Linked DNA regions of Homo sapiens: region 2 is linked to region 1. Evidence: fine-mapped QTL for protein levels in blood plasma. A gene starts in region 1. The other region holds a variant in brackets. All regions are shown on one strand. Distances are from middle to middle.

Region 1 (5,180 bases):
GGAAGAGGCTGGATGTGAAGGAACTGGGGGAGGGAAAGTGTCAGTTCCGAACTCTTAGGTCAATGAGGGAGGAGACTGGTAAGGTCCCAGCTCCCGAGGTACTGATGTGGGAATGGCCTAAGAATCTCATATCCTCAGGAAGAAGGTGCTGGAATCCTGAGGGGTAGAGTTCTGGGTATATTTGTGGCTTAAGGCTCTTTGGCCCCTGAAGGGCAGAGGCTGGAACCATTAGGTCCAGGGTTTGGGGTGATAGTAATGGGATCTCTTGATTCCTCAAGAGTCTGAGGATCGAGGGTTGCCCATTCTTCCATCTTGCCACCTAATCCTTACTCCACTTGAGGGTATCACCAGCCCTTCTAGCTCCATGAAGGTGCCCCTGGGCAAGCACAATCTGAGCATGAAAGATGCCCCAGAGGCCTTGGGTGTCATCCACTCATCATCCAGCATCCACACTCTGAGGGTGTGGCCAGCACCATGACGTCATGTTGCTGTGACTATCCCTGCAGCGTGCCTCTCCAGCCACCTGCCAACCGTAGAGCTGCCGACATCCTCCTCTGGTGGGAGTGGCCTGCATGGTGCCAGGCTGAGGCCTAGTGTCAGACAGGGAGCCTGGAATCATAGGGATCCAGGACTCAAAAGTGCTAGAGAATGGCCATATGTCACCATCCATGAAATCTCAAGGGCTTCTGGGTGGAGGGCACAGGGACCTGAACTTATGGGTTTTCCCCAAGTCTATTGCTCTCCCAAGTGAGTCTCCCAGATACGAGGCACTGTGCCAGCATCAGCCTTATCTCCACCACATCTTGTAAAAGGGACTACCCAGGGCCCTGATGAACACCATGGTGTGTACAGGAGTAGGGGGTGGAGGCACGGACTCCTGTGAGGTCACAGCCAAGGGAGCATCATCATGGGTGGGGAGGAGGCAATGGACAGGCTTGAGAACGGGGATGTGGTTGTATTTGGTTTTCTTTGGTTAGATAAAGTGCTGGGTATAGGATTGAGAGTGGAGTATGAAGACCAGTTAGGATGGAGGATCAGATTGGAGTTGGGTTAGAGATGGGGTAAAATTGTGCTTCGGATGAGTTTGGGATTGACACTGTGGAGGTGGTTTGGGATGGCATGGCTTTGGGATGGAAATAGATTTGTTTTGATGTTGGCTCAGACATCCTTGGGGATTGAACTGGGGATGAAGCTGGGTTTGATTTTGGAGGTAGAAGACGTGGAAGTAGCTGTCAGATTTGACAGTGGCCATGAGTTTTGTTTGATGGGGAATCAAACAATGGGGGAAGACATAAGGGTTGGCTTGTTAGGTTAAGTTGCGTTGGGTTGATGGGGTCGGGGCTGTGTATAATGCAGTTGGATTGGTTTGTATTAAATTGGGTTGGGTCAGGTTTTGGTTGAGGATGAGTTGAGGATATGCTTGGGGACACCGGATCCATGAGGTTCTCACTGGAGTGGAGACAAACTTCCTTTCCAGGATGAATCCGGGGAAGCCTTAATTCACGTGTAGGGGAGGTCAGGCCACTGGCTAAGTATATCCTTCCACTCCAGCTCTAAGATGGTCTTAAATTGTGATTATCTATATCCACCTCTGTCTCCCTCACTGTGCTTGGAGTTTACCTGATCACTCAACTAGAAACAGGGGAAGATTTTATCAAATTCTTTTTTTTTTTTTTTTTTTTTTTGAGACAGAGTCTCACTCTGTTGCCCAGGCTGGAGTGCAGTGGCGCAGTCTCGGCTCACTGCAACCTCTGCCTCCCAGGTTCAAGTGATTCTCCTGCCTCAGCCTCCTGAGTTGCTGGGATTACAGGCATGCAGCACCATGCCCAGCTAATTTTTGTATTTTTAGTAGAGATGGGGTTTCACCAATGTTTGCCAGGCTGGCCTCGAACTCCTGACCTGGTGATCCACCTGCCTCAGCCTCCCAAAGTGCTGGGATTACAGGCGTCAGCCACCGCGCCCAGCCACTTTTGTCAAATTCTTGAGACACAGCTCGGGCTGGATCAAGTGAGCTACTCTGGTTTTATTGAACAGCTGAAATAACCAACTTTTTGGAAATTGATGAAATCTTACGGAGTTAACAGTGGAGGTACCAGGGCTCTTAAGAGTTCCCGATTCTCTTCTGAGACTACAAATTGTGATTTTGCATGCCACCTTAATCTTTTTTTTTTTTTTTTTAAATCGAGGTTTCAGTCTCATTCTATTTCCCAGGCTGGAGTTCAATGGCGTGATCACAGCTCACTGTAGCCTTGAACTCCTGGCCTTAAGAGATTCTCCTGCTTCGGTCTCCCAATAGCTAAGACTACAGTAGTCCACCACCATATCCAGATAATTTTTAAATTTTTTGGGGGGCCGGGCACAGTGGCTCACGCCTGTAATCCCAACACCATGGGAGGCTGAGATGGGTGGATCACGAGGTCAGGAGTTTGAGACCAGCCTGACCAACATGGTGAAACTCTGTCTCTACTAAAAAAAAAAAAAATAGAAAAATTAGCCGGGCGTGGTGGCACACGGCACCTGTAATCCCAGCTACTGAGGAGGCTGAGGCAGGAGAATCACTTGAACCCAGAAGGCAGAGGTTGCAATGAGCCGAGATTGCGCCACTGCACTCCAGCCTGGGTGACAGAGTGAGACTCTGTCTCAAAAAAAAAAAATTTTTTTTTTTTTTTTGTAGAGATGGATCTTGCTTTGTTTCTCTGGTTGGCCTTGAACTCCTGGCTTCAAGTGATCCTCCTACCTTGGCCTCGGAAAGTGTTGGGATTACAGGCGTGAGCCACCATGACTGACCTGTCGTTTAATCTTGAGGTACATAAACCTGGCTCCTAAAGGCTAAATATTTTGTTGGAGAAGGGGCATTGGATTTTGCATGAGGATGATTCTGACCTGGGAGGGCAGGTCAGCAGGCATCTCTGTTGCACAGATAGAGTGCACAGGTCTGGAGAACAAGGAGTGGGGGGTTATTGGAATTCCACATTGTTTGCTGCACGTTGGATTTTGAAATGCTAGGGAACTTTGGGAGACTCATATTTCTGGGCTAGAGGATCTGTGGACCACAAGATCTTTTTATGATGACAGTAGCAATGTATCTGTGGAGCTGGATTCTGGGTTGGGAGTGCAAGGAAAAGAATGTACTAAATGCCAAGACATCTATTTCAGGAGCATGAGGAATAAAAGTTCTAGTTTCTGGTCTCAGAGTGGTGCAGGGATCAGGGAGTCTCACAATCTCCTGAGTGCTGGTGTCTTAGGGCACACTGGGTCTTGGAGTGCAAAGGATCTAGGCACGTGAGGCTTTGTATGAAGAATCGGGGATCGTACCCACCCCCTGTTTCTGTTTCATCCTGGGCGTGTCTCCTCTGCCTTTGTCCCCTAGATGAAGTCTCCATGAGCTACAGGGCCTGGTGCATCCAGGGTGATCTAGTAATTGCAGAACAGCAAGTGCTAGCTCTCCCTCCCCTTCCACAGCTCTGGGTGTGGGAGGGGGTTGTCCAGCCTCCAGCAGCATGGGGAGGGCCTTGGTCAGCCTCTGGGTGCCAGCAGGGCAGGGGCGGAGTCCTGGGGAATGAAGGTTTTATAGGGCTCCTGGGGGAGGCTCCCCAGCCCCAAGCTTACCACCTGCACCCGGAGAGCTGTGTCACCATGTGGGTCCCGGTTGTCTTCCTCACCCTGTCCGTGACGTGGATTGGTGAGAGGGGCCATGGTTGGGGGGATGCAGGAGAGGGAGCCAGCCCTGACTGTCAAGCTGAGGCTCTTTCCCCCCCAACCCAGCACCCCAGCCCAGACAGGGAGCTGGGCTCTTTTCTGTCTCTCCCAGCCCCACTCCAAGCCCATACCCCCAGCCCCTCCATATTGCAACAGTCCTCACTCCCACACCAGGTCCCCGCTCCCTCCCACTTACCCCAGAACTTTCTCCCCATTGCCCAGCCAGCTCCCTGCTCCCAGCTGCTTTACTAAAGGGGAAGTTCCTGGGCATCTCCGTGTTTCTCTTTGTGGGGCTCAAAACCTCCAAGGACCTCTCTCAATGCCATTGGTTCCTTGGACCGTATCACTGGTCCACCTCCTGAGCCCCTCAATCCTATCACAGTCTACTGACTTTTCCCATTCAGCTGTGAGTGCCCAACCCTATCCCAGAGACCTTGATGCTTGGCCTCCCAATCTTGCCCTAGGATACCCAGATGCCAACCAGACACCTCCTTCTTCCTAGCCAGGCTATCTGGCCTGAGACAACAAATGGGTCCCTCAGTCTGGCAATGGGACTCTGAGAACTCCTCATTCCCTGACTCTTAGCCCCAGACTCTTCATTCAGTGGCCCACATTTTCCTTAGGAAAAACATGAGCATCCCCAGCCACAACTGCCAGCTCTCTGATTCCCCAAATCTGCATCCTTTTCAAAACCTAAAAACAAAAAGAAAAACAAATAAAACAAAACCAACTCAGACCAGAACTGTTTTCTCAACCTGGGACTTCCTAAACTTTCCAAAACCTTCCTCTTCCAGCAACTGAACCTCGCCATAAGGCACTTATCCCTGGTTCCTAGCACCGCTTATCCCCTCAGAATCCACAACTTGTACCAAGTTTCCCTTCTCCCAGTCCAAGACCCCAAATCACCACAAAGGACCCAATCCCCAGACTCAAGATATGGTCTGGGCGCTGTCTTGTGTCTCCTACCCTGATCCCTGGGTTCAACTCTGCTCCCAGAGCATGAAGCCTCTCCACCAGCACCAGCCACCAACCTGCAAACCTAGGGAAGATTGACAGAATTCCCAGCCTTTCCCAGCTCCCCCTGCCCATGTCCCAGGACTCCCAGCCTTGGTTCTCTGCCCCCGTGTCTTTTCAAACCCACATCCTAAATCCATCTCCTATCCGAGTCCCCCAGTTCCTCCTGTCAACCCTGATTCCCCTGATCTAGCACCCCCTCTGCAGGTGCTGCACCCCTCATCCTGTCTCGGATTGTGGGAGGCTGGGAGTGCGAGAAGCATTCCCAACCCTGGCAGGTGCTTGTGGCCTCTCGTGGCAGGGCAGTCTGCGGCGGTGTTCTGGTGCACCCCCAGTGGGTCCTCACAGCTGCCCACTGCATCAGGAAGTGAGTAGGGGCCTGGGGTCTGGGGAGCAGGTGTCTGTGTCCCAGAGGAATAACAGCTGGGCATTTTCCCCAGGATAACCTCTAAGGCCAGCCTTGGGAC
Region 2 (5,217 bases), 11 kb before region 1:
GGCTGAGATTGTAAAAAGTCATCATGGAACACCCCACCTCCCAGTGCAGGAAAGCTGGCTGTGGTATTGCCAAGAATGATGTTTATTGCAGCACTATTCCCAATAGCTAAGATTTAGAGACAACCTAAGTGTCCATCAACAAATGAATGGATACAGAAAATGTGGTACATATACACAGTGGAACACTATTCAGCCATCAGAAAGAATGAGAGCCTGTCATTTGCAACATGGATGGAACTGGAGGTTATGATGTTAAGTGCAATAAGTCAGGCACAGAAGATAAACTTCACAGGTTCTCATTTATTTTTGGGAGCTAAAAATTGAAACAATTAGCCGGGCACTCACACCTGTAATCCCAGCACTTTGGGAGGCTGAAGCAGGTGGATCACCTGAGGTAAGGAGTTCAAGACCAGCCTGGCCAACATGGTGAAACCCTGTCTCCACTAAAAATACAAGAATTAGCCAGGCGCAGTGGCGCGTGCCTGTATTCCCAGCTACTTGGAAGGCTGAGACACAGAAGTGCTTGAACCTGGGAGGAGGGGGTTGTGGTGAGCCAAGACCTCTCCAGTGCACTCCAGCGACCTGGGAGACAGAGCGAGACTCCATCTCCAGAAGCCTGGAGAAATAGGGACAAAAAACAAAAACAAAACCAACTGAGTTAATGGAGATAGACAGTAGAAGCATAGTTATCAGAGGCTGGGGAGGGTGAGGGTATGTGGGTAGTGGGGAAGTGCGGATGGTTAATGGGTACGAGGAAATAGAATAAGATCTAGTATTCGATAGCACAACAGGGTGACTGTGGTCAATAATAATTTAATTGTACATTTAAAAACAACAAAAAGAATATAATTAGATTGTTTGTAACACAAAGGGTGAATGCTTGAGGTAATGGATACCCCATTTACCCTCATGTGATTATTACACATTATATGCCTATATTAAAATATCTCATGTACCCCATAAATATATCCACCTGCTATGTACCCACAACAATTACAAATTAGCAAAAAAAGAATAATGTGGCTCTTGCCAGGTTTCAGCTCCACCCTTGCTGTGTGTGTGGCGCGTTGCGTCCCCAGGTCCCTCTCAGTGGTCCGTGGAGAGCATTACCACCTGTCACTGTCTACTATCTCAGGGCAGACCCTCTCTCCTCTCTCTTCCTCCATCTCTGCACCCCACAAATAAAGTGGCAACCCCCCCGATGTGTGTCTTTGCAGAACCTGAATGTGATGAGATTGCCAGAAAATGCCAGTGTGCCCCTGGATGGGTGGAGGAGGGTGGGGCGGGTGGAGGGGACAACTTTGCCCCATTGGGGAACCACTGGGCTATACCTGTCACTGAAGCTTCCTTTCTCCCCTGCACCTGACTCCACACCTCAGGACGCAGGTCAGGAGGGCTGGGGGATGCTCTAGCCTTGGCCAGGTGGGCCTGGAGATGATTGTTCACTGCAGGAGCATTCACCTTTTTAGATGGGTGCTTCCTGTCTAGAGAAGGAGACACGGGGAGCTGGAAAGAGAAGCCTGCAGAAATAGGGACCGGGCAAAAACAAAGGAGGGTGGAGTCGGGGAGTGTAGAAGAGATAAAGTAAGGACTGGAGTGAGGAAGAGGCATCAAAAGAGGGAGGGAATGGTGAAGGCAGAAAACCGTGAGAAACGGGGAGTGAGAAGATAGCATGAGAAAGACAGGATCAAGTCAGGCGTGGTGGCTCACGCCGGTAATCCCAGCACTTTGGGAGGCTGAGGCGGGCGGATCATTTGAGGTCAGGAGTTTGAGACCAGCCTAGCCAACATTGTCTCTACTAAAAATACAAAAATTAGCCAGGTGTGGTGGTGTGTGTCTGTAATCCCAGCTACTCAAGAGGCTGAGGCAGGAGAATCGCTTGAACCCATGGTGGGGTGGAGGTTGCAGTGAGCCGAGATCGCACCACTGTACTCCAGCCTGGGTGACAGAGTGAGACTCTGTCTCAAAAACAAACAAACAAGCAAACAAAAAAACCAGGTAAACTGAGGCTGGGTTTTGTATCCCAGACCAAATGCCTGCACTTTGAATGCCTGGTTGGGAAGCCTGAGATTATCCTGTAGGGAAGCATCGAGAGCATGAACTGAATGGTGTTAGGAGACAATTATCCATGGCTCTCTTACCTTTCTGCCTGTCTCCTGAAAAAGGTATTAGCCACTTTTGAGTTCCAGATTGTCTTTTTATGGATGTTTCTCTAGAGCATCAGAGCATGTTTGTTCACTGTCTTAGATAATAAAGATAATGTCCTTCCATAATGATTTATTTATTGGCTAGGATAGTAAATACAACATGTCCTTCCGGGGCAGGTGGATCAGCAGTCCGA[C/G]ATAACAAAGATAATATCTCTCCGAGTTTCAAAGTCAAGCAGATTTCCTTGCATCTCCCTTATAAGATTGAAGATTTGTAAATACATGTAAACAGAGGTTCCCCAGCATTGACGCAAACCACTGTGTGCGCAGCATCTGCCTGAGCCACTCTGATCATCCCTGTAGGACCTGGGGGGCAAGGTGAGCCCATGTGAACATGAATCTCATGCTGCCGGCTGTGCCATGAGTAATAAAGTCCTTTGTCTCTGACCCGGAGTTGTTGTGTGTTCTGCCAATAGTTTCACTGGATACAAAATTCTTGGCTGATAATTGTTTTGTATAAGGAGGCTAAAGACAGGACCACAATCCCTTCTAGGTTGTAGGGTTTTTGCTGAGAAATCTGCTGTCAATCTAATAGGTTTTCCTTTATAGGTTACCTGATGCTCCTTCATCTTGACTTTAGATAACCTGATGACTATGTGCCTAGGGGGGTCATCTTTTTTTTGTTTTGTTTTGTTTTGAGATGGAGTCTCACTCTGTTGCCCAGGCTGGAGTGCAGTGGTGCGATTTCGGCTCACTGCAACGTCCGCCTCCCGGGTTCAAGAGACTCTTCCGCCTCAGCCTCCCGAGTAGCTGGGATTACAGGTGCGTGCCACCACACCCGGCTACTTTTTTATATTTTTAGTAGAGAAGGGGTTTCACTGTGTTAGCCAGGATGGCCTCGATCTCCTGACCTTGTGATTGGCCTGCCTAAGTCTCTTAAAGTTCTGGGATTACAGGCGTGAACGACTACGCCCGACCAGTGGTCATCTTTTTGCAATGAATTTCCCAGGCGTTCTTTGAGCTTCTCATGTTTGGATATCTAGATCTCTAGCAAGGCCAAGGAAGATTATTCCCCTCAAATATGTTTTCCAAACTTTTAGATTTATCTTCTTCCTTGGGAACATGAATTATTCTTAGGTTGGTTGTTTAACATAATCCCAAACTTCTTGGAGGTCTTGTTCATTTTTTAAAAATACTTTTTTCTTTGTCTTTGTTGGATTGGGTTAATCCAAAAGTCTTGTCTTTGGGCTCTTAAGTTCTTTCTTCTACTTGTTTGATTCTATTGCTGAGACTTTCCAGTGTATTTTGCATTTCTCTAAGTGTGTCCTTCATTTCCAGAAATTGTAATTGTTTTTGATTTACGCTATTTCTCTGGAGATTTTTCTGTCCATATCCGGTAACACTTTTTAAAATTTCTTTAAGTTGGTATTCACCTTTCTCTGGTGCCTTCTTGAGTAGCTTAGTAATTGATCTTCTGATTTTTTTTTTTTCTGGCAATTTCAGAGATTTCTTTTTGGTTTGGATCCATTGTTGGTGAGCTGGTGTGATCTTTTTGGCGTGTTAAATAACCTTGTTTTGTCGTATTACCAGAATTGGTTTTCTGGTTCCTTCTCCTTTGTAGACTATGTCAGAAGGAAGATCTGGGTCTCAAGGGCTGCTCAGATTCTGGATTTAGCTACCCAGTGGAGCGTCTGCGCTCTGGGCTGGTACTGGGGGGTGTCTGCAAAGAGTCCTGTGATGTGATTCATCTTCAGGTCTCTTAGCTGTGGATATCAGCACCTGCTCCGTTGGAGGTAACAGAGGAGTAAAGTAGACTCGCTGGGGTTCCTTGGTTGTATTATTTTTTAGTGCGCTGGTTTTGTGTTGGTTGGCCTCCAGCCAGGAGACGGCACTTTCAAGACAGCATCAGCTGCAGTAGTACAGGGAGGAAAACAGCTTGCCCTAGGGTTACCTGGATAAGTATTCAGGTTTCTCAGGTGGAGGATGGGGCCAGATAGCTTCCAAGAGAGTATGTCCTTCGTCTTTGGCTACTAGGGCAGGTAGAGGAACACCATCAGGTGGGGGCAGGGTTAGGGGTGTCTGAGTTCAGACTCTCCTTGGGTAAGGGTCGCTGTGGCTGCTGTGTGGGGGTGGGGTGTGGTTCTCAGGCCAATGAGGTTATGTTCCCAGGGGAATTATGGCTGCCTCTACTGCATCATGTGGGTCACCAGGGAAGTGGGAGAAAGCCAGCAGTTTCAGGGCTCACCCAGCTCCCATGCAGCCCAAAAAGCTGGTCTCATTCCCACTGTGTGCATCCCCAATCAATGCACAGTTTGTTTGCAGGCAGCAGGTGCGCAGGGCTGGGAACTCGCCCCAGGCTACAAGCCTCCCTGCTGAGAAAGCAAGCAGGGCTTTCAGGTTTCGTGCCTCCCCACCTGCTGCAGCTTCTGTGCTCATGTCTGCACTCACAGTTCACCCCCTCCCCTGAGTTCTGTCCAGGAAACTTCGTGTTCAGTTGAAATTGTTGCAAAGTTCAGCTGGAAGCTTCCTTCTCCCTGTAGTCTTTCCCCAATTCCGTTGGCAGCCCTCCCCAAGGACCCCTGTGAGATGAAGTCAGAAATGGCTTCCCTGGGGACCAACAGTACCCTCAGGGCTCTTCCTGCTGCTTTCTCTACCCCCCGTATTTCATTCAGCTCTCTAAGTTCATCTCGGCTCCAGGTAAGGTCAAATCCTTCTCCCATGATCTGGACCTTCAGATTCCCCAGTGAGGATGTGTGTGCAGGGGCGGATGATCCCCCCTTCACACTTTTCACACTTTGAGCACTCACAGTTTTTCAGCTGTCTCCTGGAGCCTGCAGCAGCAATGTGCTTCCTTCAAAGGGTCTGTGGGTTCTCTTGGCTTTCCTGGTATGTTCCTGCAGTAGTTCTTGGAGCAAAAATTCAAGACGTGAGTCTCCACATGCTGCTCTGTCCATCTGAGTGGGAGCTGCAAGTTAGTCCTGCTTCCTAGCCACCATTTTCTCCCCACATTAGCTTTTTGACTTTTCTTTATATATATATATATATATATATATATATATATATATATATATAT

Alleles and levels. Alleles are on the strand shown, and positions count from the first base shown. The strength of an association depends on the size of the effect and on how common the allele is.
In carriers of allele G in region 2, the plasma level of the protein whose gene starts at base 3,596 in region 1 tends to be higher than with C alone (weak association).

What was found. A credible set is the group of variants that fine-mapping cannot tell apart. PIP is the posterior inclusion probability: the model's chance that the variant is causal. Protein levels are from antibody-based Olink assays in UK Biobank. Linkage for the fine-mapping came from a reference panel and not from the study's own genotypes, which makes the PIPs less certain.
Region 2: its variant is the best candidate, but not a certain one, in a credible set for the plasma level of the KLK3 protein (UK Biobank, PIP 0.54).

What each region holds. Positions count from the first base shown.
Region 1 is chr19:50,851,320-50,856,499 of GRCh38, forward strand. It overlaps KLK3 (kallikrein related peptidase 3), which reads left to right and starts at 3,596. Exons shown (of 5, transcript NM_001648.2): 1 at 3,596-3,682; 2 at 4,921-5,080. The coding sequence starts at 3,637. RefSeq lists promoters at 1-3,607, 2,974-3,633, 3,056-3,607, 3,272-3,607, enhancers at 3,195-3,229, 3,422-3,444 and cis regulatory regions at 3,438-3,562, 3,507-3,570.
Region 2 is chr19:50,839,971-50,845,187 of GRCh38, forward strand. The region is part of intron 2 of LOC105372441 (a long non-coding RNA gene); the gene reads left to right. Among named protein-coding and RNA genes, the nearest start is that of KLK15, 9.0 kb to the left of the region's middle. RefSeq lists a silencer at 450-637 and enhancers at 3,923-4,445, 4,446-4,967. The variant C/G (reference allele first, on the strand shown) is at 2,342.